6 separate regions of the Homo sapiens genome follow, and regions 1, 2, 3, 5 and 6 are each linked to region 4. Evidence: fine-mapped expression QTL. A gene starts in region 4. Each other region holds a variant in brackets. All regions are shown on one strand. Distances are from middle to middle.

Evidence for each region.
Region 1: its variant is fine-mapped to the expression of OPN3 in monocytes after muramyl dipeptide (Kim-Hellmuth 2017, PIP 0.95).
Region 2: its variant is fine-mapped to the expression of OPN3 in whole blood (INTERVAL, PIP 0.93).
Region 3: its variant is fine-mapped to the expression of OPN3 in whole blood (TOPMed, PIP 0.99).
Region 5: its variant is fine-mapped to the expression of OPN3 in whole blood (TOPMed, PIP above 0.99).
Region 6: its variant is fine-mapped to the expression of OPN3 in esophagus mucosa (GTEx, PIP above 0.99).

What each region holds. Positions count from the first base shown.
Region 1 is chr1:241,091,973-241,097,048 of GRCh38, forward strand. The region is part of intron 3 of RGS7 (regulator of G protein signaling 7); the gene reads right to left. Among named protein-coding and RNA genes, the nearest start is that of MIR3123, 38 kb to the right of the region's middle. The variant A/AAC (reference allele first, on the strand shown) is at 2,266.
Region 2 is chr1:241,610,144-241,615,219 of GRCh38, forward strand. The region is part of intron 1 of OPN3 (opsin 3); the gene reads right to left. Among named protein-coding and RNA genes, the nearest start is that of CHML, 28 kb to the right of the region's middle. The variant T/C (reference allele first, on the strand shown) is at 2,767.
Region 3 is chr1:241,596,264-241,601,339 of GRCh38, forward strand. OPN3 (opsin 3) reads right to left here. Exons shown (of 4, transcript NM_014322.3): 3 at 1,483-1,734. Among named protein-coding and RNA genes, the nearest start is that of CHML, 42 kb to the right of the region's middle. The variant T/C (reference allele first, on the strand shown) is at 2,096.
Region 4 is chr1:241,638,267-241,643,342 of GRCh38, forward strand. It overlaps OPN3 (opsin 3), which reads right to left and starts at 2,103. Exons shown (of 4, transcript NM_014322.3): 1 at 1,616-2,103. The coding sequence starts at 1,988. CHML (CHM like Rab escort protein) reads right to left here and starts at 2,103. Exons shown (of 2, transcript NM_001381853.1): 1 at 1,616-2,103. RefSeq lists enhancers at 1,230-1,800, 1,801-2,370 and silencers at 1,473-1,522, 1,853-2,432.
Region 5 is chr1:241,578,647-241,583,722 of GRCh38, forward strand. All of the region lies in intron 10 of KMO (kynurenine 3-monooxygenase), which reads left to right. Among named protein-coding and RNA genes, the nearest start is that of KMO, 49 kb to the left of the region's middle. The variant A/G (reference allele first, on the strand shown) is at 2,405.
Region 6 is chr1:241,702,438-241,707,513 of GRCh38, forward strand. All of the region lies in intron 8 of WDR64 (WD repeat domain 64), which reads left to right. The region is part of intron 1 of LOC124904603 (a long non-coding RNA gene); the gene reads right to left. Among named protein-coding and RNA genes, the nearest start is that of WDR64, 53 kb to the left of the region's middle. The variant C/T (reference allele first, on the strand shown) is at 2,631.

The DNA of each region.
Region 1 (5,076 bases), 550 kb before region 4:
TAAAATATTAAAAAAGCAATTATTCCGGTCATCAGGGTTTAAAGCCTATTTATTATATAATGCACCTAAAATTTATAAAGCACCCATGATTATGAATCAAAACATCTATATCCAAATAGTATTTGATATTATTATACTGTAATGTATTTTCTAGAATACAGCACACAAGAAACCACGTGCTATTTCAATATCTTGTTAAGCAAGTGAAAACCTATGTTGTCAGTTTTAATTCACTCAAATATGCCTGTAGCCAAGGTAAATGGTATAGTTTAAAATAGTACCACAAATGAAGCAACTATCTTACAAATTTAAAATTAATCATTTCCTCTTTTATTCATAAACTTTTATGCTTCATCTGGATTTGGATCTCTATTCTTCTAAAATTTAGAGTTTTAAGTACAAAGGATTTTTTAGCTGGTATGAGTGTTATAGTTTGCTTTACCAAAGATTTTCAGATGAGAGAATGAATAAACATTGTAAGTTACAGGATATGAATTCCAGGGAAAGAGCTATCATGCAAGAATAAGACTTATGGATTTCATTTACAGAAAATCTTCAGCAAAATCTACAAATATATTTTTAGCTATATAGTTATTTTTTCAATTTGAAGACATAATGGTGTTAACAGTGACTGAGCACTTTTATGAAACTCTCATGGAATAATATTTGAACTTCATCTTTTTCTATTGTGGTAGAGCACTTGTTCAAAGCCAAGATGTATATCCCCACTTGTATGGGGCAGATTCCGGGCAAAACCACTCCTTACCACAAAGCAGACACTTCTCAGATGCCTCTTCAGGATTTATTCCTTACCTGCCTTCAAAATATGATTTGAAGCAATTTACAATATAGCCCCCAACAAACTTAAAAGAACAACAATAAAAGATAGAAAAAAAAAACAATTAGAAGACAAAGAAAGGCAGATATGTCAGGGATGAATCACATGAGAAAAAGAAAGAATGGAACATTAAATTTAGCAGTGAACTTCTTGGCAACTACAGAAAAAAGGAAAAGGAAAATACAAATTATACATTATTGTTTTTAAAAAGGAAAAAGTAAAGTTTATCTTCAAAGACACAATTTTTTAGTAGTTTATTATAAAATACATTTATTTTATTGTTTTTTTCATTAGAAACTTAGAGAACATGAAGGAAATGTCTTTTAGTACAATTTCGCAGAAATCACAAAATAAGATACAAATAATCATCTATCTGCCTGCTCTAAAGGCTTTGATACTATTATACTCAAACTTCTTAAAGGTTTTTTTTTGTAGTTAAGGACAGACAATTCAAGTTCTTTGTTGAAGATGAGATTACAAAGTTATAGCCTTTAAACAGTTCTGTTCCTACACCTGACTTTTTAAACCTCTGCTAAAGGAACTTACCTTGGTTCCTCGTACAAGTTAGTTACACGTTTATTGCTAATGTATATGTAATCTATTTCCCCAGCAACGGTAAAATACTAGCCCACAAAACCCAGTATAGTTACTGGAACATAGTGAGTATTTGATCAATGTTCATTGCATTGAATTAAAAATATAAAGAAAAACGTAGTTAGCATGCATCTAAGACCAGCAGACACCAATCCCATATTTTTAAAATCAGCTTAAAAATACATATTTCTATAACCTGAGCTTAATATTTAATCTAGGGGAAAAAATAAATAAAATAAAGTAAAATAAAAACAAAAATTATAGATTCCCTGGTTCCATCTCAGCACTAATGAATTAGAATATCTGTGGTTTGCATTTGAAATCTGCATTCCTAAGACCTTCTCCAGAGAATTTATTGCAGCCATACTCCAGAGTGGCATTTCATCAATCCCAAATATTCTCCTTTTATAACATTTTTCATGTACACTCCTTTTTTTTTTGCAACCATAAATACTTTGTGTCCAATACATGTGCTATGGGGGATGACTCCTAGGTATAATTAGAAGAAATATTGAGATGGGAAAAGTTTAAGCTAGAAAAGGGAAGTCGAAGTCGAAAACATAGTGAAACAAAAGGTAGATGTTTTACTGTGGAGGATTGAAGGAGATGAAGAAACCAGAAGGAAGTTTGTGCAGACTGCTGGACTGTGCCTGAGGACTGGGGCAAGAGCTGCAAAGCTACCAGTAACCCAGTACTCTCTGCCTTATCTTCTCTGCTTCTCCTTCCTTACATGCTTCACTGTTCTCAACTGCAGACAGGCTTCCTTTGCTGCTCTCTGCACAGGGGCATTACCCAGCCCCTAGGTTACATTGCCTCAGTGCCAGACATACATA[A/AAC]ACACACACACACACACACACACACACACACACACACACAGAGTCACACACACACTTCACCAAAGTTCTGGGAATCTCAACAGAAGCCCAGGGGAGAGAGCTGTTAGTCAAATTCTATAATGTACATACACCACTGATCTCATTCCCTGGCCCTGAGACACCAGGTCACATACAACCTGTGCAGCTGCCTGAGCTATCTCTGCAGCTGAGAAGGCACTTCTGGAGAAGAAGGTAATGCTGTGACTGGATGCACTCAAGGACATTTCTCATCTCAGAGTTCAAGGAAATGGCATAGAGGAATTATCCAAAGATACTGTCCTATGGTCTTGGGACTATGGAAACCAGGAGGTTGAAATCAACAACTCTAAAACCAAAACAAAAACAAAAACAAAAACAAAGAAAAGTCTTAGATGTTTCACTGGACAAAATGCATTTAGCAGGAAAAACAAAAACAAAACACAAACCCTATTATTAGGTAGATTATATTTGTCATTGCATTCTTTGACATGATCTGGGTCTGGATTGCAGATGTTGCAGGGGGAATTGGATTATAGCATCACTTTCTCAACACAGCTGTTTTCACTTGAGGTGGATATGGGCATTACTTGGCCACCATGACCTATGTTTTCCTTTGAAGCATGGGAGTTGTCTGGTGGAGTTGGGTAGTGTTCATTCTCCCACAAAGCTGTTGACAGCTATCAATCTTAGGGGCAACAGAGACTCTCAGCTTGGGAGTAAAGGAAGGAGAAAGAACTAGATTATTCTTCCTAACTGCTTTTTCCTTCCCCAAGTAAAATTTTTTTTAAAAAGTCATTAGATAGGCTGGGGTGGCCTTGATTGAGGCCAGACTGCAGAGATGATTAGAGCCCTTCAAAGAAAAAGATTGGCACAAGCAAGGTGGCCACTGATCCCAGAGCTCTCAATAAAACAAGCATGCTCCCCGGAGCTGCCCAGCTTCTCTGGGTGCATTTTAAGGCAATATGTCTTAAACTTTAGTGCACAAATTGAGGTTCTAATTTAGTACATCTGGGGGTGGGTCCAGATACTATATTTTCTTTTAAAATTAACAAATAATAATTGTACATATTCATGGGATACATAGTGATGTTTTGATACAAATAATATATGATGGCTGGGCTCATTCCTATAATCCCAGCACTTTGGGAGGCCAAGGCAGGAAGATCACTGGAGCCCAGGAATTTGAGACTAGCCTAGGCAACATGGTGAGATCTTGTCTCTACCAAAACAAACAAACAAAAAATTAAAAATCAACCAGGCATGGTGGCAGGTGCCTGTGGTCCCAGCTACTTGGGATGCTGAGGCAGGAGGATTGCTTGAGCTCAGGAGGGTGAGGCTGCCATGTTTGCACCACTGCACTCCAGCCTGGGTGACAGAGCAAGACTGTATCAAAAAACAAAACAAAACAAGAAACAAATAATGTATGGTGATAAATAATGAAAAGTGAGAAATGATAAACATTTATCCTTTTTGAGTAATTAACATATCCATTATCTTAAATATTTATCATTTCTTTCTGTCAGGACGGCTCAATGTCCTCCTAGCTATTTGAAGCTACACAACATATTATTGTTAACTATAGTCATTCTACGGTGGCATAGAACACTGGAACTATGTGGCTGTAATTTCGCATTCTTTAACACATCTCTCCCTGTAAGTTTCCAAGTGATTCTGATACTAATGGTCCATGGAAGTAATGAGGCTTTAAGGAGCACAAATTGGTAACTTGAGAAAGTTAGATTTACAACATTTGCGATCCTTCCTTCCGTGTGGAACAGTCCATAGCAAAGATTGACTCCAGTCTGCAACAACTGCACTACCCTCCTTTCACATATGGCAGGACTTCATCACAATGGTTTCTGGTTCTACTAAGGGCAATAAAGTCAGCGGATTCCTTGTTTCATTAGAAGCTCTGCAGTAGACCATGAAACATGCTCAGGGAGAGAAGGGGGAAGCTGAAAGAGCTGGGAAAGCCAGCAGTCCGTTGCGAGTTGGGCCACAAAAGAATAGAGGAATTAACAATCCCCACAGATTATAAGAAAAATCTGGGGAGGGATACTAACTAGAAAAGACTGAAAACTTCTAGTAAAGTGAATGGAGCTTGAGAACATTATAATTTGGGAATATTAATATAAAGAAGCTGATAAGTGCTAGACATAATACTAGATATACCAACTAAATCCACGACAAAGCATCTAATTGAACCTACGAGGCAGAGCACGCCTGCAAAGTTTCCAGGGAATATAAAATGATTACTTGGACCTAATTACATTAACGTGAAAAATGTCATTGATATTCTCTTTATTGAATAGCTACCACTGTTATTTTACAGCAGTGAACATTAAAACAATTATTAGAGATTCCCAGGTTAATTCTCAATCTATATGTCCAATCTTATTTTTCAATTAAAATCTTAATGTTGTCAACCAAGAATTCTTCCAACAGCTTGCTGTTGAGATATTTGCTATCTGAAGAACTCAATCAAAAATTTTAGACTCCACTAGAGTGGGTATCACAAAATTGCAGCCAAACTTAATCAGATGAGCAAAGTTTTTTGTTTAGCCTATGTATTTTCATAATTCCTGAATTAGAATGCCTCTAAGCAGGCCATACACAGTGGAACTGACCAGTTCCCAGTGCAGGATGGCAACGTAGTGCATTTATCTGCCTGAATTCTAAAGGAGATAAGTTCACCCCTTTCATTAGCTCATCAATATATATATGAGTAACATTTTTATATGCGTGTTTAGATGTGGAGTTAACTCTGAATCCTTGACCAAATGGAGCTTAAGG
Region 2 (5,076 bases), 28 kb before region 4:
TGCCTAAGCTTGCTGCAACGGGATACACACCATGCCCAGGCTGCAAACTGCCCGGCATGTTCACTCAGAGCTGGCAGCTTTGATACTGCTGTTCCTTCTGCCTGAATTGCTGCCAAAGATCTCACAGTCTGGAGAAGACAGATGTGTAAACAAACAATTACAGGAATGTGATAAGAGTTAAACAAAGCTGTGTCGGGGAGCTGGAGAATGCAATGGAGGAAGTACTTATCTCTGCCTGGGGAAACACTGGGGAAGGTTTTAAGGGAAAGCAACATTTGAATTGATGAACAGGAGAATTTTATCAAGTTGACAAGAGTGAGGATATTTCAAGGCCAAGGATACAGTATGTATAAAAGCACAGAAGTGAAAATATATATTTAAATGTCTACTCTGTGCATCAGTTTGAGTCAAATAGTTCTTTCCGGTATAACTTAATGATTATACACTCATTTGCAATATTTATCAACAAACACATGTCATACACATACTGTGTGTCAGGCACTGTGCTAGACAATAAGAAAAAAAGATGAATTATAAACAGAGAAGTAAACTACTATAAAACAATGTGATAAATTCAGTAATAGAGACATATGTTTGAGGCCAAAAGTCCTGTATTCAATTCCAGTTTTCTCCATATTACCTAATGAATGTCGTCTGACTTCAGATCAATTTCATTTTTTTTCACATAATTACTCTGTGACCATGGGAAAATTAATTAACATCCCAGAATCTCAATTTGCTCACCAGTAAAACTGAGATAATAGTACCAAAATGCTGTCTCATCGTGTGGGTGTGTGGCTGTATTAAATGAGAATATACATGTTTAGTAAAGTGGTAATGCGTAAGGTATTATTATTATTACTGAATAGTTGAATATCTTGGAGCTAAATTGCTTTAAGTAGTAGAAAGTGGGTGGAAGGCATGGGAGTGGACAGGGCTCTGGAGGTTAAATATCAATACAACTCTGGAGCTTAAATATTAATACAAGGTGTGTTTATCAATATACAACTACCCAATAATACAGTTATTTTCTCACTTTGGCCACTAGATGGCCACATTGAATAGCTTATTTATAGTTCAAGTATCTAGACTGGGGTAAGCAAGTTCACACTAAACAGAAGAGCGTGCTTCAAAAAAGGCCATGACCGAGACCTGTCAATCCTTATCTGTTGTATGAAAAGGTTACTATGACGAAACCCATGCCTTCAAGGAGCACATAATCCAGAGAAGGAGGTAGAAGGAGAAACTCTGCCTATAGTGGGAGGAGGAACACCCAACTCAGGGTATTTTCTGTGGGAAGCAGGTACCACCTGAGTGAGTCTTAAAGATTAAGCACACTTTAACAAGGCCAAAAAAAAAAAAAAAAAAATGATGGGGAAGTGAAGTGACAGCCAATCCTCTTATCCTATTCCAGGAAGAGAAAACAGCTTATGTAAATACATGGAGATCTGACAGAGCTTGCACCATTTAGGTGCCTGCAAATAATTCAAAATGGTAGGACGGAGTTCTAAACAGAGAATGAAAAGACTAAGGACTCTCCTAGAAAACCCTTAAATGCCATGCGTGGAGCTTGGAATGTGTCCCGAGGGCTCTGAGGAGCCATTAAGCTGTTTTTGTTCACTTCCATTACAATACAATTCTAGAGAATTTTATTTTCTTTTGATTTTGCTTTTGGAGGTTTTCCTTATGGGAAGTTCCCTTGGGCTGCAATGAGGAAAATGGATTGTGAGCCAAGCCTGGTTCTAGGGAAACCTAGTGGAGAAATATGGTTACTGTGATAAGGAATGAAACTGATGCAGTGGCACTAGGGAAGGAGAGACGAGGAAGGTCCACCATATTTAAGGAAGTTAATCTTTGTTGGCTGTGGGAATGAATGAAGAAGAATCAAAGCAAGTCTTGGGTTACTGGTTTGTTATAATTAATAGCTGATGTTGCATTGACTTAGAAAAGAAATGGGAGAGAAGTAAATTTGGAAGTGAAGATGATTAGGGGATAACTTATGTCATCATAGATTCTCTGGATCATTTTGAACAATATCTGGATGGACTGTGTTTCAAATTCTCTACCTATAAAATGGGGCAACTGTAAATACCTGTCTTGTGGTCTTCAGAGTTGGCTGGGTGAATGAGCACACAGTAAAATCTTCCAAACTAAGTGGATGCATTTTTCTCAAATTAATGAAAATTTTGCTCACTCAAAAATATATCAATTTGTAGAAATTTAAAAAGATGCAGTTTAACTATTTTTGTTCACAGATAGTAATGGAAACAAAACTCTACGAAGATTGCTTAATAAAGATACTACTTTACTAAGTAGTGGTCTTTATGAGACCATCCCTAGAAGCTTTATAAAATTAATCAAGGAAAAAAGGACAAGGGGAATGTAAAATAAACCAAGCCTGTGGTACATTCAGCATGGATTATGAGGTCAGCTTGCTCTCTGACCTGCTTCCTCATAGCTGTTTGCCTCTTGTCCCAGAATCACGTAGACCCTGTGACAAAATTATAGTTCCCCTTAACTGCTCTATGGATAACAGCTTGAACATTATATAATGTTAAGTTTTCCATTTGAGATATTCTTTCAGGTCCTACGTACCAGTGAAACTACTGACATCAGCTTGCCTGAAGGATCCCACGAGAAGCTGACTCACCAAAGAATGCAGTTTCCACATCCTGATGATTTCATCCTCCGTAACCCAACCAATCAATGACCCCAATTCCCATCCTCTTTCTCCTCATGGTCCCCTTAAAAATCCCAACCCAGATC[T/C]CCTCAGGGAGATGAATTTTAGGGTCTCCTCCATCTCATCGCTCAGCACCCACTCAATCATGGCTGTTACCGTGCAGCGGGCATACCATCCTGTTGCTCCTATAATATCTAGTCATATGAAACAATATTAAAGAAAACCAGTACATTTAATATGCTTGAAAAAGTTTGTTCTTTTAAGCAAGTAACCAATTCTTCTTTGAAATCTTGTTTATATTGCTTATTTGTTGAGAAAGTTTCCTTCCTCCTTTTTATTTAATTAACAATAGTAATTTCAGCCCACTAACACTTATAGAGAGTACTTACTATGAGTCAGGGACTGTTCTAAGCAGTTTGCCTGTGTTATCTCACTTAATCTTCATAACAACTCTGTGAGACATGTAGGAATTATAATTACGATTCCCATTTTACAGATGAAGAAACTGAGGCAATAATGGTTTAGTCATTTGCCAAGGTCACAAGCTAAAAAATAAAAGAGCCAAGACTCGAATCACACAGTCTGCTTCCAAAGTCCATGCTGTGCTATACTTGTTTTCTAATTCTTCTTTGAGAATTATCAAAAATTTTATATTAGTGATGTAGAGTCTCTATAGAAAGCATATTTAATCCATTGTCTGCTACGTATGTTCTGTAACCATGTCTAACTTTGATATCAGAAGAAGTCATTTTTTTAAACTCAATATTCTTAAATTGAAGAATTTTAGAGAAAATGAAAGACTACCTTCATTTGAATAATATCTCTCAGCTGTTAGAATGAGTGATTTCCATTTGACCAATAAAAGCAGTTTGCTAGAACAACCAAAGTGGTAGTTGGTTTTTATTATACATGTTTTCCACATCAGGATGTGGAAACTGCATTCTATTAAATTTTCATGTTCAGTAGTCTTCATATTTCGTGCACAATGACTCAGTTTCAAAGGAAACCCAGCACAACATCAAAATTAAAACCCTTTCTGTGGGTTAAAAAATTAAGATTTCAGGTCCGGTGTGGTGGCTCATGCCTGTAATCCCAGCACTTTGGGAGGCCAAGGCAGGCAGATCACCTGAGGTCAGGAGTTTGAGACCAGCCTGGCCAACATGGTGAAACCCTGTTTCTACTAAAAATACAAAAATTAGCCAGGCTTGGTGGTGCGCACCTGTAGTCCCAGCTACTTGGGAGGCTGAAGCAGGAGAATCGCTGGAATCCATGAGGTGGAGGTTGCAGTCAGCCGAGATCATGCCAATGCACTCCAGCCTGGGCAACAGAGTGAGACTCCGTCTCAAAATTAAAAAAAAAAATTATGATTTCAGGTAATCAACTTATATAGAAATGTATTTCTGACCATTGTGTGTCATAGCTACCCAAATGCTTGCAGTGCATTTAAAACTGAGAGGCCCCTTAAGAGAGGGCCAGTGAACTACCAGAAGAGAACGATTGAATGAGGCAGGCCACATGCTGTGGTCTGTGGCTAGCTGCTCACAGTTTAAAATGCTGCACTGTTGTTTCCATTGTGCTCACTCATGCTATCCTTCACTGGTATTTCACATGCATTGCATTTTTTTTCTATTAAATTTAGTGACTTTTTAAAAAATAGGGTACACGGGGCAAATAGTTGCCATAGTTGTTAAAACATACGGACATTTTTCACCATAAGCATCTCCTCCTAGGCTACGCTGGGCACCTGTGCAGTAGCTTGGAAATCGTGCCAGGCTTACCTCCCCTCTGTTATCTTTGGTTCTTTTAATATCAGCTCCCCTTGTTCTCTGACCATTCTGGCTTCAAACTTGGCTTCTTTTCTGCCTATAGTCCCATTTGGACAGATATCCTAGCCTTAGGCTTTTCTGCCTACAGTCCCATTCGGACAGATATCCTAGCCTTAGGCTTTTCTGCCCATAGTCCCATTTGGACAGATATCCTAGCCTTAGGCTTTTCTGCCTATAGTCCCGTTTGGACAGATATCCTAGCCTTAGACTTTTTGACTTGCCTCTGATTTGACAAAGCTTTAGGCGTTTGTTTCCCCCCAGTAATTGCTTAAACTCCACAAACCATAACCAAGGAAAAGGAGAGCCCTATCTTGGAATAGGACCTCATTAGAACTTTTTCCACACTTATGCCTCTGCTCGTCAGGAAAGGATATTGAACAAGATGGTTAACAATGCAAAAAAGGATCATTATTACACTAAGAGACCCAAGAAATATCCAGTATGACCAGAGTCTATGGGCTGAGTGGGAAAAAAGTTTGAATATAAAGTAACTTCTCTGTGGAATTAATTAAGGTTCAGAAGAATAACAAACATAAGCACAGTGGGGCCAAAGTCTAAAAAAAAAAAAAA
Region 3 (5,076 bases), 42 kb before region 4:
AAAGTTATAAACCATCTCACTAGAAAAATTCATATGTGTGCATACTAAAAAATTGTTATAAACAATTTCCAGGGTTTCAGTGGCTCTTCTGAGGCCAACTCAAGGAATGTTTAGGTCCTATGGACTCCAAGTTTAAAATCTCTGGGTTAAAGGAAATAGACCAATTGAAGGCAACAAAACAGGGAAAGAAACACTGTCAGTGAGAGGAGATTAAGGCAGGTGAAAGTGAGTTTATGGAGAGTGTAAGCCAATAATACTCAAAGAGAAGGAAAGGCAAAATAAGAGGCAGAGAGATTTAGCACTGAACATAATAAGGTTATTACAAAAGTGCCCTCTTCTTCCACATTCTTGAGCATTAGAAGTCACAGTGATTATTATTGCCTGTTATTATTATGACCTGTTATCTTTAAAATTCCAATGGAGTAATTAAGCATTATCTTTAACTTTTAAATTCTCTGAAACGTAGAGGCTCAGCTTTATAATAATCATTTTGTGGGCTCTCCTAGCCATGACTCATAGCCATCAAGTCAAAACCTTTCAACTACAGAAACAGATGATAAGGAAGTTCCTCTTCTTTTTGAGACAGGGTCTCGCTCTGTCGCCCAGGCTGGAATGCACTGGTGCGATAGTGGGTCACTGCAGCCTTGACCTCCTGGGCTCAAGAGATCCTTTCATCTCAGGCCCCTGAGTAGCTGCGACTAAGGCACATGCCACCATGCCCAGCTAATTTTTTCTTTTTTTTTTTTGAGAGAGCGGGGCATCTCATTATGTTGCCCAGGTTGGTCTTGAACTCTTAGCTCAAGCAATCCTTCTGCCTCAGCATGCCCAAGTGCTGGGTTTACTGGCTTGAGCCACCACACCAGGCCCAGGAAGTTTCTTGAACCAAATTAATTTAGGCTAGACATTTGCTGTGGCATGTGAATAACAACCCAGGCCAATTGCTACAAGTATCTATAACCCCAAGTGAGGAGTTATAAGCACTGGATTTGGGGATTTGAGCAAACTAGGTTCAAATCCTGGCACCAATACTTCCTGGATTGGGCAAGTTATTTAACTTCTCTGAACTTATTCATAACCCATAAATAAAACAAGGAATAATATTAGTGCCTATTTTGTGGAGTTTTGTAAACTGGCTTGTAACTTGTTTGTGACTTGCTTGTAACTTGCTTGGTACAGTAGGAATTTTAAATGTATTATTAACATTGTAGCTGTTATTACTAGGCATAAACTATTTTCTGATGAATTAAATATTAGTTTTACTAGAATTCTACCTAACAAGTGTGAATCCCTATGGGTAGTTCTTAGAATTGTTATGATTTTCTTTGGAAATATTCTACATTTCTTCCAGATCCCTTTAATTCCTAAAAAATTCTTGTTTTTTTTTTAATTGAAGCGACTCTGAATCACCTCTGTAAAAGTATTACACTGTCATTTCCAACTCTATGCCCAGGGTGAAAACAATCAGTTAATTGCAAAGCTTACCTTTCTGATCATGAAGACATAAATCACTGGATTGTATACAGTGTTCGATTTAGCAAAGAGGTACGAAACAATAGATATTGTTGGAGTGACCAGGTGACCATGACCATTAACCACCAAGAAGCAGATCACGATATAAGGCATCCAACAGACCAGGAAGGTGAATATCATTAAAAAGCACATTTTGGCCAGTTTCTTTTCATATTTTAAAATCTTGATCACTTGAATTGTCTGAAGATCTTCCACACAACGAAGCTGCAGAAAGGAGAAAGAAAGGAAAGGGCTTAAAAAACAAAAGAAGGGTTTCTTTTGTTGTTTTTATAACAGATATTCAGACACCATTCTTGGCCCCACCTAAATGGAAAGAGAACTGAATGGCACCTTGGCAGGCTGACTTCTGATCCAAGACTCATAGCTGAGTCCAGCTTTAACCTTGCCGGGCCTCAGTCTCCCCACTTACAACATAGGGTGGTTGAGCTACAGAGCCTCCTACATCCTTCAGTGTTTTTTTTGACGTTCTCTTATTTACTTAATAAGAATAACATTATTTTGCCTAGATCTTCAAGTCTCTAAAAGACAGCCTGAGAGAGTCACGATAAAATGCAAAGAATTTCCC[T/C]GTGATCCTGGAAACTCTATAGAGTGTTAGTCCTCCAGTTCTCAAATCAGACTGCACACCCATGTCATGTCAGGTGTTCTGCATGATTAAGCCTGCAGCTGGCCTTGATGAGCACTTAATTCCCAAGTGAATTCTTACTGAAAACCAGCTTTTCAATTCACTGCTAATGACTGTAAAGTAGAATTTCAGGAGAAATTTGTTTGTGATTGGCTTCATTAGGGGATCACTTGCAGAGAACAGCACTTGGTAAAACAACTCCTTCCTCTAAAACCAGCCTGTCTACTCGCAGTCTGTTCCCATTAAAGGGATGGAGGAGTAATGATGTACAGCCTGAAAGTTCTTTGAGTTTCTTGAATATGTTTCTTTTTGCTGTTTCTCCTATTATTATATATGTGTCATAATAATACACAGGCAAAGAATATTTCTGCACACCAAAAATGTGTTCCTAAATCAAAATAGTTCTCTCTAAACATTGTAATAAGTTATATGAATTATACTACAAAAATACAAATACTCTATATATTGATTTTTTAAGTAGTTAGCATATAGTTAATACTTAGTATTGATTACTTTATGCCTGGAAATTTACTGCATTTCAATGAACTCTAAGTGTACCTTTTGGTTCTAGCATTATCATAAAAATTAAGAGAAAGAATTTCCAAAGAAATCATTTAGAACATGTGCTTAGATTATTTAGAAATATATTTTAATTAAAATTCTCAAATTACTGATATCCAAAATTATATTTAAGAAATTATATTCTTATCAAAATCATGTATTCAGATTAGCAAAGAATAGAGAGAAATAGGAAAAATTTAAATCATTGATTTTTTTAGGGTAGAGAGACTATGTGCAGGGAAAAGTGGGTATTAAATTTCTGGTATTAGTTTGGTGCAAAAGTAATTGTGGTTTTTGCCATTAAAGGTAAACCTTTGAAGGTCACCTTATTTAAAGGTAAATAATATTCCTTTACCACTATGCCAATTACTTTAAAAAATCAATATATAAAGTATTTGTATTTTTGTAGTAAAATTCATATAACTTATTACAATGTTCAGAGATAACTATTTTTATTTAGGAACATATTTTTGGTGTGCAGAAAGGTAAATAATTTACCTTTAAAAAAGGTTACCTTTAAAGGTTTACCTTTAACGGCAAAAACCGCAATTACTTTTGCACCAACCGAATACTACTATTCTGTGTGTGCAATTCTATTTTAAAAGAAACTGTTTTATTTAATGGGATAGAATATTTTTCTATTTTCAAAACATCATTTTGGGGGAGCTTCCCTAGTTTATAGGAAGGCTGTGGGGTTTTGATAAAAGGTCTAGATTTGGAATTAGAAGATCTAAGTTTATATCCCAGATTAACCACTTTTGCTCGCAGTGTGATATTGAGCAAGTCAACAACCTCCTCTAAGAGTAAACAAGAAAGGAGGTAAAGCAAAAAAACCTATGAGAATTAACAGAACTTGAGTTCCATTTCCACACGTATGACTTTGTGGGGTTGTTTTTGAGGTTAAATACTTATTTATATTTGAACTAGATATGAGACTAACACACTTGTATGTATATGTACATTTATGATACTATAGGATATCTGGAATCATTATTGACTCTTCAGAGTTTCAATTAACAAGCAACATAACCACATCTCAGTTATCTGCCTCCCAAACCTCCAGTATTTAGGTCCAATCGTTTTATCTGTACCATTTTCTGGGCAGGTCAGTCTTTATCCCCTCTCGCCATTTATCAAAGGAGAACACTCATTTATCCATCTTGGAATTACATGCATGCTGGGGAAATTAATTTAAATAAATGTTTGTCTATACATCCCCAGTTCCTCTTTGGGATAAGGAGAAGATATTGACTAATGTTTTAGATTATTTGGGTTTATATATGTGAAGTTTTCATGATTATTTTTTATTTATCTTTTTCAGGCCTCTTTCTTTCATTACTTTCTATTCCTTCATTCTGCTCATTAAATATTTTCCAAATAAAAAACTCGATTTCATGTCTTACCCTCTTTATTCAATCATTTGAGGATAGTTTTCAAAATTGCTATGGATGAAGCAATTTTGAAATGATTGGCACAGGCACAAATTTGTCCTAAAGAATGAACCAGCTAAGACAAATTCTTCAGAATTCTCTATCAGATTGTTCTCTGGCTGTATAAATGGCTGGTGCCTAGTGCTCCTTAATCCAAGACATCTGTAGATTTTCAAAGAATTTCACTGTGAATCTTCATTCTCAAGTGTGTAGCTATGTCTCCATCGTTGTTATGAGTCACCTCTCTCTGAATAAGGAAACGGAGGCAAATTACTTGCAGTGAGCTCTCTGTTTAGATAGCAGCTAAAGTCAAATCTCTTCACACTTTCACCCCTTCTCCTGTCTTCCCCTTTCTATGCCCTCTGCTTGTAACTCATTCCAAAAATAGTCACTGATTACCTACTACATGCAGACACTGTTCCAGTCACAGGTGAGAAAATACATAAGACCCAGTCTCTGCTCTTGAGGAATTCACTATTTGGTGAGGATGATGCACACTGAGCGGGTAGAAGCCATGAGGGAGGTAAACAGGGAGGATATGGTAGTACACAGGATGGGAAACTGGTTCTGAGGGTGGGTTAGAGCAAGAAAATCGTGCTGTTAGCCTTGTGAGGGAAGGAGGAATTAGTCAAGTAAGGAGGAGAGACAGAATGTTCCAGAGAAAGAAAGTGTGCTAAGACAAGAGGCAAAATAAAAAGTCAGTTTCTGAAAACAAGAAATATTACCATTGGCCGCATCATGAGGTGGCAAGAAGACAGGAGTGTCAAGAAATGAGGCTGGACAGGTAGACAGGAGATGCCATACAGGACCTGCCGGCCACACCCAGGGGCTTTATTTTGAGTCACAAAGACAGTGGAACTTCTGAAGGTAATACTTGAGAACAACTACTCTGATGGCAGTGTGTAAAGAATGGAATAGAGGAAAGCAAAAATT
Region 4 (5,076 bases):
AAGAAAAACAGGAAGGGAGAAGTGACCAGGAGACACAGGAGGGTGGGATCAGCAGAGGAAAGAGGTGAGGAAGAGGGTGGATGACAGCTAGCACTTATAAAGAACTCAGTACACCCTTGTGTTCAAACTCCCGGGCACGAAAACAGAATTTTCCAGCACAGAAAAGGCACTTCAAGGAAAAAAGAACTTTGATGTCTGTGAACAAACACCTGTTGACTACCCTGGAGAACACTACTGATGATACTTTAGGCTTGGGCTTGAATAACCTTCTTAGCATTGCCGAAGAAACTGCCTGATAGGTATTTTACAATTAATATAAGGAGTGTAATCCCATAGTCGTCCATACCACAGCCTACATACACTTGCAGTCCCCTCCCTAAATTTCAAATGTTTGTTCAAATGAAATTATCAGATTAAAGCTTATGAGGGGCGGGGAGGAAAATATTATAACCTCTGAAGCAATCAAATAAAATCTATTTTCTTATTTCCTTCAAAACGCCAAAAAATGAATCATTACAAATATAATATTTGGGTTTGTCATAGCATAGAGGTTACTGAATAAGAAAATATTTTTGATAATTCTACAAAGATTTTTGTTCTCCCAAACCTACCAAGATTAAAGCAATAAAGTATCAATGGATTTCAGGATTTAAAAAAGGAACTTTAAGCCTTGAGAAATACACATTTCTATTTCAAATCTCCCTACAAATGAAATTCCTGAGGCACACAAAAAAATAATTTCCTTTCTACGCTTCCTTCAATGATTTGCTGAGTTGTTGATCATCCTTCAAAACATCATGTCTCAGTGAAACTTAAATCTTCCATAATAAGAGTACTGTCGAAATACATCTTCAACAATGAAGTTCTACTTTAATGAAATCTACCGATTGCAGAGCTAATTACAGTATTTGTTCACCTGAGATGGTATTGGCTGAGCCATTTGTAATCTCACCCAAGATTCTGGTGTGCTGGAACCCATCTATAAGACGGAAAATAGTAAAAACAGCTTACAGGGCACATGCCAATTTGCATTCTGAGGACCTGAATGAAACTGTCTCATTCCCTAGAAAGCATTCAAAGGTTTACAAGTACTAATGAGAATTTTTTTTTACACATTGTTATTTTGGTTTTCTACTCTCATTTTAGGAAACAAATAGTAGTACATGAATCTAATCTCATCACTCCCTCCAACTTTCACGAGTTAATCACTTTTTTTCTTGAATCTCTTGACTCTACAGGCCCTCGTCTCTTTCCTCAAAGTGTAAAAAGCCGTGGTTTCGTGCCTTGTTGAGTGATCTTAGGAGGTAAAAACAAATAAGAAAGGAGGCGGGCCGGGGTTTGGGGTCAACGTGGGGGGCAGATGAGAGACCACAGGAATGGAGTCCTGGACAGCGTGGGGCGGGAGGGGACGGAGGAAGAGGAAGGCACCCGCCATGCGGCTGGGGTCGGGCAGCGTTGAGGAGGCGAGCGGGGAGCGGGGCGGTGTAGGGCGGGGGGCGCGGGGCCGAGCGGGAAGCGGTGCGGGGCGGGCTGGGGGGCGGACGCACGGAGCGGGCAGCGGGGTGGGGAGTGGAAGTTTGCAGAGGGGAGGCTGCCTTCTCCCAGTCCAACTCACCGAAGAGGCTGCCGCTAAACCCGTCCCACACGCAGCCCACGGTGTCCCACACCCAGCCGTTCCTCAGGCAGGACACGAAGGTAAAGGTGACCCCGAAGAGGGACACCAGCAGGTCGCTGAGGCTGATGTTGACCAGGAGGAGGTGAGTGGGAGTGCGGAGCCGCTGGAACTTGTAGTAGAGGACGAGCACCAGCAGGTTGTTGCCGACGCCCAGCAGCCCAATGGAGCCCAGCAGCAGCGCCAGGCGCTCGTAGGTGCCGGGGCTGAAGAGGGGCGCGGGGCTCAGTGTCCCCGCCGGCGCCGGCCCCTCAGCGCCCGCGGCCCCGCCGCCGTCCCAGTAGCCGTGGCCGCCGCTGCGGTTCCCCGAGTACATGGCCCGGCGCCGGCGCGCCTGGCGGGCGGAGGCGCTCAGCTTGCGGCGGGGCTCGCGGCGCGCTCCGCACTGGGTGGGGTTGGGGCTCCGCCGCCTGCTCTAGCCATTGTGCACTGAGGGGCCCGCGCTACCGCGCGCCGGGCCCGCCCTCTTCCCGCCCCTTCCGCCCGGCGCACCCCCCGTGGCCCCGCCCCTCCCCGCGGCCTGTCCTCGTCGCTCCGCTGCTCCCGGCGCGTCCTCTTAGCCCCGCCCCCCCGCGGGCGCGTCCTCGCGGCTAGCTCGCCCCGCCCCCACTGGCTGGGCACCTTCCGCTGGTCGGCGTGGACGCGCGTCGCGGGATAGCCTGGGGGCCAGGGCCGCAGGGTAGCCTCGATGGCTCTTCACACCCCCACCTCCCTGCACCCACCTTGAAAGCTTCGTGTCCACTCACCCATTCATGCACTCACTTATACATTCATTTATTCCTAAGTATTTATGAGCGCCTGCGCCCACCACGTGCTGGCAAGAATTGGGTTTCTCCCCTTCCTGGGAAGCTGTAATAACCCACAACCAGCCTACGAAGCCCATCCCGCGTCATACACTCAATGTAAACAAAAGCAAAGAAAACATTGAAGAGCTCGGGGTAGTCTTACCGGAAAACTGAGAAGAAAAACAACAAATTGATAGACAGGTGCCTGCCTAACTACCTGACTGCTAGAGGACACATGTCCCAGGGCTGATACAAGAGCCTGCCACCCTTGGAGAGTCTGGGATGAAAACTCTCTGAAAATGGCATTCCAATGGAACTGACTTTAAGCCCTGGGCTGGACCCCAAGGCCTTCCAATACCGTCCTTCCTGTGCTTGAAAGCGTGGGTAGATCTTTCCGGTCACTGAGGCCTGCTAAAGTCCTTCACAGGCAGTGAAAGATTCAACCTAAATCTAGCAGGTATAGGAGGCAGGTGCTATATTTAGAACAGCACACATTTCCCATTGGGCCTCTTCTCCTGTAGTGATGAGAATATAGTACAAGTCAAATATAGGTTGTGAACGTCATCACACTCTGCAAGAGCTGCTTCTGCCTTTGTGGTTGCACAATCCCTAAGGAGGCCCTACAAGAAGATCACAGTCCCCAGCCACACCTGCAGCCTGTCCTGGACACTGGTGACGAACACAGGGTTTGTGCAAGCTAAAGAAACTGCTCTCCATACGGGCGTGCCTCACCTCTGTTTGAAAGATCAGTAGGGAATGACTAGCTTGGATCAATCCACATTCTGAATTCCCTGGAGAGAGGATCTAATAGGCTGGCAGCAGCTCTCCACCCTGGTGCACTGAGCAATAGCTAAGGGGCAGTGTGCTCTGCCTTTGACACCTTGATTTTCCTTCAAGGCTTCTGCTCTGGACTCGCCATCTGTGAGACTTCCTACCCACCCACCCCTTAAAAAACACACACACACTTTTAATTGTTAATTTTAGATTTGTACAACCACTGAACAAAACATAACTATTTAACAAGTTCTATATGTTTAATGTCGAAAGTGTTTTCTGTGTCTAGTCTACAGTAAGTTCTCAATAAATAGTAATTTGAATGAATGAATAAAGAACTCGCTATATTTTTTCCTATTCATTCTTCATTGCTGAGTCATTGCCCTTATAAAGCTCACATTCCAGTCGTGTTGGGAGAACAAACAAAAATTAGATAAATACGTAGGGTGTCAGCCACTGACAAATGCCATGAAGAAATAGGGGTCAGGCGTGGTGGCTCATTCCTGTAACCCCAGCACTTTGGGAGGCCGAGGCAGTAGGATTTCTTAAGCCCAGGAGTTCAAGACCAGCCTGGGCAACAAAGTGAGAACTGCCCCCTAACTCTTCAAAAAATAGAAAATTAGCCAGGCAAGATGGTACATGTCTGTGGTCCCAGCTACTCAGGAGGTTGAGCCAGGAGCTATGGGAGATGGGGCAAGGAGTTTGTAAGAGTTAAAGAAAGAGGAAAGAAACACTAATAGCAGCTCAACAGTCAGACAGTGTTATTTGGAAGAATAAACCTAAGAGGGGCTTCTGGCCGATTTCGGTCAGGAGCACTCTCTTACAGACTAAGAGTATTTAAGGATTTTAGAGTGAGAGAGCTTATCACAGGCGTGGAATGTTTCTGTTTGGAGAAGAAGTTTATTGCCAAGTTGGAATGTCTCTGTCGGAGGGGAGGTTATCTCGGGGCTCGCATGTCTCTGGTCAGGGAGGGGTTTATCTTAGGGTTGGAATGTTTCTGGTCGGAGATGTCATTTGTGGTGTATGGTCATGCTGACCTTAGCCATTAGGCTGATGCTGTTTGGATTTAGGTGGTTTTTGATCAAGGGGAACTTTAAAATGGCAGTGCTTGTCCATGATGGTGATGCACCTGCTCTGTCAAGGTTGTTATTTAGACAAGGTGGTTATGGGCAGGAGTACTGTATTGGTATGTTGGAGGAACAATAAGGAAGCAAGAATGAGAATCGGGAAATGCAGCCAGTCAGGTGGGTGTGCAGTGAATGGCCAGAATATGCAGGACCTTGGCCATTTCAATAAAAGGACTTTGGCTTTTACTCAATCAGAGTAAAGTCCAGGGCAATGCCTACTAGCAGTGAATGCAAAGGAGGAGTAAGAGGCCTTTGACAAATGCTTAAGCATTTTTGACACAGTAATTTTACAATACTATGAACCATTAAGGACATTTATTGAGCTTGACAGAAACAGGCAATGATAAGGATATATGTTTCTTTTTTAATTTTAGAATTATGTAATGACAGGATAATGGCAGAACACTACAATCTTTTATTAAAAAAAAAAACAAAAAACAAACAAATGAAAAACACCAGCATGATATAGTTTGGATGTTTGTCCCCACCCAAATCTCATGTTGAAATATAATCCCCAATATTAGAGGTGGGTCCTAGTGGTAGGTGTTTTGGTCATAGGGGGCGGATCCCTCATGAATGGCCTGGGCCATCCCCTTTGTGATAAGTGAGCTCTGGTCATCTAAAAGTGTGTGGCAACTCCGCCATCCCACTCTCTCTCTCTCTCTCTCCCTATCTGGTTGTCGCCATGTGAGATGCCTGCTCTCACTTTGCCTTCCAC
Region 5 (5,076 bases), 60 kb before region 4:
TGTGTTGGCTATTTCAAATGCTGGTTGTAGGAGTAATTAACTGGTTATGTGGACAGACTTAGAACTTCCTGGTTAGCCAGGGTGGTGTAGGTAATGGTGTGTATTAATCTGTTTTCATGCTGCTGATAAAGACATACCCAAGATTGGGTAATTTATAAAGAAAGAGAGGTTTGATGGATGCACAGTTTCATGTGGCTAGGGAGGCCTCACAATTATGGTGGAAGGTGAAAGGCCCTTCTCACATGGTAGCAGACAAGAGAAGAGTGAGAGCCAAGTGAAAGGGTTTTCCCTTATAAAACCATCAGATCTCATGAGACTTATTCACTACCACGAGAATTGTATGAGGGAAATTGCCCCCATGATTCAATTATGTCCCACCAGGTCCCTCCCACAACACATGGGAATTATGGGAGATACAATTCAAGATGAGATTTGGGTGGGGACACAGCCAAACCATATCACAGTGATAGCTGAGGTCATACACAAATTTTCTCCTTCCTGAGTGCAGGTTATTCTACCTGCAGATGCTGTCTGTAATGGACTGTGTCAGTTGGCTTCTGCCAGGTGGTTGTACTTGCAAAAGAGCACCAGGTTTGGTGGTAGCAGTGGGATTTCTGCTTGCCTTATGTTACCTAGGGGAGGTACTCTGGTTTCTTACGTGATGGGCAGGGTTATAAAGCTCCCAAAAGTTTCTGTCTTTTGTGTTAAGCTACCAGGGTAGGTGGAGGGGTGAAGCCAGGTCAGAGTTGTGCTGGGCAGGTCCATGCAAGCAGCATTCCCTGTGGGGGCCAGGAGACAGTTTTCTGGCCACTAAGGTAACGCTTCAGGGATGAGGACAACTGCCTCTGCTTCACTGAAGAGTTTGCCCAGCAATTAGGGAGTAGCAGGCGGCAGTAAGCTCCACCCAGCTTCCATGCACTTGGCAAGGCAGGTCTTACACCCACAGTGTTCTGCTAGCAACAGCTAGCTAAGCTCCAGGAAGTCTACACTCAAAACTGTCCTAGGCCATAAGCCTTCTCCTCAGAGACAGCAACTGGTGACTTTCAGGCCACTCCCCTCCCAGTCCACCCACAAATCCAGGGCACCCAGCTTCTGCACTCGTGGCTGTAGCACACTTCCCATTCACCTCCCAGTTCTGGCCAAGAGAGTTCAACCCTGCTCGAGATTATATCACAGATTTTAGTTGGGAGCTTCTCTCAACCTGTGACTGCTGCCTGAGTTAGCTTGCAGACTTCCATGAGGTTCCCAGTAATGTAGAATCAGGAATAACCTCCCTTGGTTTGTACTGGAGACCGGGAATGTCCAAAAGTCTCTTCCAGCTGCTGCTCCTGCTTTTATATTTCCCACTGCTCACTAAATCAGTTCCAGTGCTTGGTAGGGTTAACGCCTTCCCCCATGGACTGGATTGCCAGGTTCCCCAGTGGGGATTTATATCCTGGAGGCAGGCTCTCACCCTCTCACACTTTGAGGACTTAACAATTTTTCACATGGCTTATAGTATAGGTTGCAGCAGCCTATCTCTTCTTTTAAAGGGTCTTATGGTTTCCTTCCGTTTTCCTGTTAAGTTCCTGTGTTGCCTCCTGGAAAAAAGTTCACAGTGTGTATCTCTACATAGTCTCTACATATATCTCTACATATCTCTACACCACATTTTATCTTCCCAAGTGGGAGAGGCATGCTAACATTGCCTCCAATTCACTGTCTTAGGGGGAAAGATTTTTTCTTTCTTCAACTAATTTTGGATTCAGTTTGCTCTTGCTTTTATAGCTCTTTAGGATACAATTGTTAGGTTGTTTATTTGAAGTTTTTCTACTTTTTTGATGTAGGTATTTATTGCTATACACTTCAACTTTAGTACTGCTTTGGCTGTGTCCCACAGGTTTTGGTATGTTCTGTTTCCATTTTCATTTGTTTCAAGAAATCTTTAAATTCCCTTATTGGTCAATTTCTTCATTGACCCAGTGGTCATTCAGGAGCATATTGTTTAATTTCCATGTGTTTGTATAATTTACAAAGTTTCTCTTGTTATTTATTTCTAGTTTCATCTCACTGTGGTCAGAAAAGATACTTGATGTGATTTCAATTTTTAAAAATTTTTTGAGATTTTTTTTGTGACCTAACATACAACCTATCTTTGAGGATGTTTCATGTGCTAAGGAAAAGAACATGTATTCTGCCTTTTTTGGATAATATGTTCTGTAAATACATATTAGGTCCATTTCTTACATACTTTTTCTTTATTTTATGTCTTGATGATCTGTCCAAAGGTGAAACTGGGGTGTTAAGTACCCAGCTATTATTGTATTGGGGTCTATCACTGTCTTTAGTTCTAATAATATTTGCTTTCTATATCTGGGTGCTCCTGTGTTGGATGCATAGATATTTACTATTATATTCTCTTACC[A/G]AATTGACCTTTTTGTCATTATATAATGAACTCATTTGTTTGTCTTTAGAGTTTTTGTCTTGAAATCCATTTTGTCTCATATAAGTATAGCAACTCCTGCTCTTTTATGATTTCCATTTGCTTGGAATATCTTTTTCCATCCTTTTATTTTCAGTCGATGTGTGTCTTTATAGGTGATGTGAATTTCTTGTAGGCAGCATATAGTTGAGTCTTATCTTTTTATACATCCAACTGCTCTATGTATTTTTATTAGGGAATTTATTCCATTTAGTTTCAGTATTACTAATGATAGGTATGGACTTACTGCTGCCATACAGTTACTTCTTTTCTGGTTGTTTTGTTGGTCCTCTTCTTCTTTCTTCCTTCTTGTTTTCCTTTGTGTAAAAGTGATATTCTCTGGTAGTATGTTTTAAGTTTTTGCTTATTATTTTTTGTGTACCTATCATAGGTTTTTGTTTTGTGGTTACCATGAGGCTTGCAAATAACATCTTACAACCAAGTATTTTAAACTGATGACAACTTAACCCGGATTACAAAGAAAAAGAAAGAAAGAAGAAAAAAAGAGAAAAGAAAAGAAAAGACAAACAAGCAAAGAGAAAACTAAACAACTCTACACTTTAACTCCATCCCCCTGGCATTTTGACATTTTGTTGTCTCTATATATATCTTTTTATACTGTCTCTAAAAAGTTCTTGTAATTATTATTTTTGATAAATGTGTCTTTTGGTCCTTCTACTAAAGATATGTACATACTGCAGTTACAGTGTTAATAGTATACTGTATTTGTCTGTATACTTACTATTACCAGTGAATTAGATACCTTCAGGTGATTTTTTTTCTCATTTGTTAACATCCTTTTCTTTCATATTGAAGATCTCCCTTGAGTATTTCTTGTAAGACGGATCTGGTGTTGATGAAATCTCTCAGGTTTTGTTTGTCTGTGAACATATTTCTCCTTCATGTTTGTAGAATAATTTTGCTGCATACAATATTCTAAATTGGAAGCTTTTATTCCTTTAGCACTTTGAATATGCCAATCCATTCTCTTTTGTCCTAAAGGTTTCTGCTGCAAAGTCTGCTGCCAGACATATTGGAGCTCCTTTTATGTTATTTGCTTATTTTTACTTGTTGCTTTCAGGATCCTTTCTTTATCCTTGACCTTTGAGAGTTCCATTAATATATGCTTTGATGTAGCCTTATTTGGCTTGAATCTGTTTAGTGTTTTATGATCTTCTTGTAGCTGGATATTCATATCTTTCTCTAGGTTTGGGAAGTTTTCATTATTATTTCTTTGAATAAACTTTCTACCCTTATGTCTCTCTCTATATATGTTCTCTTTAAGGCCAACAACTATTAGATTTGCCCTTGTCAGGCTATTTCCTGGATCTTATATGTATGCTTAATTCTTTTTTATTCTTATTGTTTCCCTCTGACTGTATTTTTATATAGCCTGTCTTCCAGCTCACTAATTTTTTCTTCTGTTTGATCAATTCTGCTGTTGAGAGACTCTGATGCATTTTTCAATTGAATTTTTCAGCTCCAAAATGTCTGCTTGATTTTTAAAAATTATTTCAATCTCTTTGTTAAATTTATCTGATACAATTCTGAATTCCTTCTCTGTATTATCTTGATGTTTGTTGAACTTCTGCAAGACGAGTATTTTGAATTCTCTATTTGAAAGGTCATATATCTTTGTCACTCCAGGATTGGTCACTGGTGCCTTATTTAGTTCGTTTGGTAAGGTCATGTTCCTTGGGTGTTCTTGATGCTTGTGGATGTTTGTTGATATCTGGGTGTTGAAGAATTAGGTGTCTATTTTGTCTATTTTGTCTTCACATTCTTGGCTTGTTTGTACCTGTCCTTCTTGAAATAGCTTTCCAGGTATTCCAAGGGGAATGAGTGTTGCGGTCTAAGTTTATGGTCACTGCAGCTGTATCAGTACTAGGAGGTGCCCTAAGCCCAGGAATGCTACAACTCTTGCCAAGTCCTAGAGGCACAATGGTGCTTCTAAATGAAGCATTGTCCTAAAGGGAGAATTCCTTGGGTTACTAGGCAAAGTATCTCAGTCTCTTCTCTTTTGTTCCTTGAACCACAAGGAGTTTTTCTCCCCATGCTAGGCTGCCTGGAGTTGGGGGAGGAGTGACACAAGCACTCCTGTGGCCACCACAGCTGGCACTGTGCTGGGTCATACCTGAAGCTAACACAGTACTGTGTCTTGCCTAATGCCCATGGTGACTACTGCCTGGCTACCACTGATGTTTATTCAAGGCCCAAGGGCTCTTTAGTTAGCAGGTGGTGAACCCTGCCAGGACTCAGTCATTGCCTTCAAGGCAGAAAATTCCCTTCTGCCCCAGGGTGGGTATAGAAATGCCATCCAGGAGCTAAGACCTGGAATCAGGGGCTTCAGGAAACTACTTGGTGCTTTATTTTATTGTGGCTTAGCTGGTACCTAACTAACTAGTAAGACAAAGACCTCTATACTTTTTCTTCTCCTTTCCCCAAGTGAAGGGAGTTTTTCCCCAAGCTGCACTGCCTGGAGTTGAAGAAGAGGGTCTCAGGTACTTAAAATCATCTATAGATTACTTATAATACATATACCTAATACAATATAAATGTCATGTATATAATTGTTATACTGTATTTTTATTTGTATTCTTTTTTGTTGCATTATT
Region 6 (5,076 bases), 64 kb after region 4:
TGTTTAATGCCTGACACAAAGTACTCAATAAATGTTGGCTCCTTTTCTTGTTCCCCTAAGAAAGATACTGAAAAAATTTAAAGGAAAAAAAAAAAAAGAAAGAACTTGAATACAAAGGAGAAGAGATGAAACTATCATAGATTAGTTTGTGCACTGGTTTAAGCTTCCTGTTCCTGCATCTAGAGCAGGGATTAGCAAACTGTAGCCCAAGGCCAGATCCAATGAGTCACCTGTTTTTATAACATCTGCAAACTAAGAATGGTTTTTACATTGTTCAATGACTGAAACAAAAGTTTTAAAAAAGAATAATATCTTATGACCCATAAAATTGATATGAAATTTAAATTTCACTGGTCATGAATAGAGCTGTAAGGGAATCACAGCCATACTTATTTGTGTTATCTATGATTGTTTTCATGCTACAGTGGCAGAGTTGAGTAGTTCTGACAACAGAGACTTTATGGCAAAATCTACAATATTTGTTATCTTATTCTTTATGGAAAAATTTTGCCAATGTCTGATGTAGAATTTTCTATTGCACCCTCCCTTGCCCCTTGGGAATGGGCACAATATGGATCAATAAGAGGCAGTAATACAGAGTTAGGGCCACTTTTTAAAAATGCCTTACCTGAGGCATTCTGAAATTTCTTTCCTCTTATATCATAAAGGAGAAAAGAGAAATGCCTTATTCCTTGTTTCCTGCCCTCATTCCCCACCAACTACCTCACCGTCACCGGGAGAAAATATCGAGGGACTCTGCTGACTCAGTAGCCCTGCTTCTTTAGCAATCACACAGTTCCCCTGGGATGCTTCCCGTCTGCAGCATTGCCTTCCATTCAGTGAACAACCCCTATCGTGTAACACATGCCCCCTGAAAAAAGTCACCCCTTTACCTTCTACCTGATGACTCTGCTTCTCTCCCTGCATCACGCTCATTAATTCATGGAACAACAGGAGAAAAGTCTGAGATGAAGCATGTGGTAATTCAGCCAGGGACTTTTGATAGGGGACTCTATCAAAAAGTTTTTTTTTTTTTTCTGTTTTGAAGAAACTGTCAGAAAATGTTTCTCTTTAAAATTGCTATCATTTCAGGGGGATCAGGGAAAAAGTCAGAATGAACTTCCCAGAATCAATACATTTCTATTCTGTGTGACTCCGGGAAGTGGTTATTGTTAATCAGGTATTTGTCCCTTAAGGATATTCAAACAATTATTTATTGGGAGCCTTCTATATTCAAAGAACCGTTGTGTATTAATCCATTTTCACACTGCTATAAAGATACTATCTGAGACTCAATAATTTGTAAAGGAAAGAGGTTAATTGACTCACAGTTCCACATGGCTGGGGAGGCTTCAGGAAACTTACAATCATGGCGGAAGGTGAAAGGGAAGCAAGGACCTTCTTCACATGATGGCAGGAGAGAGAAAAGTGAGCAAAAGAGGAACTTGCCAAACACTTATAAAATCATCAGATCTCATGAGAACTCACTCACTAACACAAGAACAACACGGGAGAAGCCGCCCCCATGAACCAATCACCTCCCACTAGGTTCCTTCCTCAATACTTGGGGATTACAATTCAAGATGAGATTTGGGTGGGGACACAAAGCCTAACCATATCACATGGTATCTACATTTTATCTTGTTATTAATGAACATCATGGGCCCACATTGTACACGAAACTGTGAGTCTGGTGCCACTCTGCTATGGGTGGTGTTTACAGGTGGGGCTCACTAAGGTGTCCTGGCCAAGAGGACAGTCTCCTTCCTTCCCAACCTCACCCCTGCCATCCTGAGAAGGGAGCATAGTGTGGTGGACCTGGGCTCAAGTCCAAACACCAAACTGATATCTCAATGCACTGGAAAGTATATGAAAAAACGCTCTTCACTCTTAAAGTGCTATCGAAATGCTGGTTAATATTATCATGATAGATTTCTCACAAAATGTTTGATTTTTTATGCATGCTGGTTAGAGTAAGATACTTCTAATAACAGAATGAAAAAGCAATTTTTCAAAGGATATGCAGCTGAATATGAACATGAAATACTGGAAAGCAGGCCATCTTTCATTTTCCAAATTGACATCAATTATATGAGCCTTTCTACTTGAAAGAAGTTTTATTTAAAGGCACAGTTCACTCATTTGTAATTCATTTAATTATGTGGGCTCCTATCATTATTTTTTATAGGAAAATAGAGTAATTACATCTAAAGGGCAAATATCCTTAAGAAACTGAAATTTTTAAAATGGGAAGTATGAACACAATTCCACATGCTGAGAAATTTAAGTAAAAAGGTTGTTAGATTTGCTCATAATCAGTTAATAGGGTATTAAATGGCTCTTTTCCTGCTGTCTTAGAATTTCAGCTAATGCCATTCTAAAGAGAGGTATAGTAGACCATCCTCAAGAATTACTGGAGAGGATTGCTCTAGACCCATGACCTTTACACCATCATCCCTTGCCAGCAAATGTGAATATGATACAACCAGCAATTCAAAAATAATTGAAAAGAGGGATTAAGGTACCTGGTTGTGGGCCAATGGGGGAATGCAGGGTTATTTTGTCTGCCTTCCCCAAAATGGGAGTGGCGGTTGGGGCGAGAGCTTCTGGTGCTACAAAGCAAGTGCTGA[C/T]AGGTCCAGGAAGATCTACTCCAGAAGAGCCTAAAGTGGGGAAACGCATCTAGCTCCCCAGTAGCTAGTTGCTGAGGCTCAGAACTCACAGGCTCACCTTGGGCAAGCTTGACATGTGACACATGTACGCGATGACCACTACTCGCTTCCTCATGGAGAATTTATTTTTTTTCTTTTTAGAGACAAGGTCTTGGCCGGGCGGGGTGGCTCACGCCTGTAATCCCAGCACTTTGGGAGGCCAAGGAGGGCGGATCATGAGGTCAGGAGATCGAGACCATCCCGGCTAACACGGTGAAACCCCGTCTCTACTGAAAATACAAAAAAAATAGCAGGGCATGGTGGCGGGCGCCTGTAGTCCCAGCTACTCGGGAGGCTGAGGCAGGAGAATGGCGTGAACCCGGGAGGCGGAGCTTGCAGTGAGCCGAGATCGCGCCACTGCACTCCAGCCTGGGCGATAGAGCAAGACTCTGTCTCTAAAAAAATAAATAAATAAATAATAATAATAATAATAATAATAATAATAATAATAAAAGATACAAGGTCTTAATGTTACCCCGTCACCTGGACTGGAGGGCAGGGGCATGATTATAGCTCATTGCACCTTCGAGTTCCTGGGATCAAGCAATCCTCCTGCCTCAGCCTCCTGAGTGGCTGCAGATACAGATGTGTGCCAACACGCCCGGCTAATTTTTCTTAATTTTGGTAGAGATGGGGTCTTGTTATGTTGCCCAGACTGGTCTCAGACTCTTGGCTTCAAATGATCCTCCCACCTTGGCCTCCCAAAGTGCTGAGATTACAGGTGCGAGCCACCATGCCTGGCCCTCATGGAGAATTCTGAAGGCTGCAGGCTGGGCCACAGTCTGACTTTCCCGGCCCTGGGCATTTTTGCCTTTATAGGTCCCTCCCACCATAATACTATCAATCTTACACATTATTTTTCATATACTTTTATGTCTTCAACATTTTTCTTCTGTCTTAGGAAAAATTTAGTATGTTTTCATGGGCCCTAAAAATTCTAATGTCCTATGACCCTAAGCTTTTATTTTTGCCTTCTGATTTTAAGTGCAACTAGAATATTTCCACGGGCCCCTAAAAGTACTTTGGGCTCCAGGCCTTGTGCCAGCTGTGCCTAAGGATCAGGTCGACCCTGGCTGGAGGAACCCGCCACAGAGTGGCAAGGCTGCATTCACACTGATACTGTCCAGCATCCTGTGAATTCCCTTTGGGCCACAGAAGGTAGCTTCGCTGGAGCCATCCTAATGGGAATTGGCCCAAGAAGATTTGCTGTTGGGGCGAGGTGACAAGATAAGACAGGGTAAAAGAAAATAATGCCCTTCCTGGTTTGTACTACATCCAGTTCAGTTCATTCAGCCAAGCAGCTATGGTGACAAAGTATGTCACTGGCAAACCTGTAAATGAGTCATCAGTTAGAACTTAACTACTTCTCATCTGGGACATTTAAGCATTTTCAAAAGCCTAAATACTGACTTTTGATTTATGTTACTAAATTGAGACTCCTTTTATGAACTTTGCATTTGATAGAAGGATAACTACTTACAAAGTAGATTTAAATTAGTTCAAAAAACTGTTTTAAATATTTTAGAAGTATTCTTTCACATAGAGATAATACTACCTGCTCTTCCATTTAGTAAAGCTTTCTATCTAGCAGTGAATTTGGTTATTTTGCATTATTTTTTATTAAATTTTTAAAAATCAAATTTTTTCAGGTGATTGTTCTCACTCATCAAGGTATTTTAACAAATTTTATTTAAATAATTGATTTTTAATTGTAGTGTCTATTTCAAAAAATATGAGAGCTATTCCTGCAAACTGGTAGCCTGTTAGCCAAATGCAGCTACAAAATGTGTTTGGGGGATCACTTATTTTTTTGATCTTTGCTTGTTGTGGTGAACCTGCCTTTCCTGTTGTGCATGTTGGCTGGCTCTGGGCCCGGGCTCCCCCTTTTCACAGGCATGCACTCTCAGTTCACCACAGCCCCCCTTCTCCCTGTGGTGTCATACCCAACCCCTTCTCCCAGCTAGTTTACCTGCCTGGCTGCTGCAGACTTTGAGTTTGTGACCCTCAACTGATGGACACTCTCACCTCTGTTCTTGTAGTTCACTGATGTATCTATCCCCTAGGGCAGTGTTGGGCGTACAGCTGGCACTCATAAATGTTGTTGACTCACTGACTGAGGACCCACTGAGTAAGCCCTAAAAACTCTACTTCCTTCATAGGCTTTGCTGCCCCTGGCAACTTTCCTACCTTGAGTATTTCCCTTTTGGAGTACACTTAGAGTCAACTGTCCTCTCTCCTTAACTCCCTTATGAGCCCTAGACATTCTTTGATATGAAAAACTAATTTTTTTAGCAATCTTAGACACAGCAGAACTTTTCAAACATATTACAAGCCTAAGCCTTTCCAATACAAAATTTTATAGCCAGCA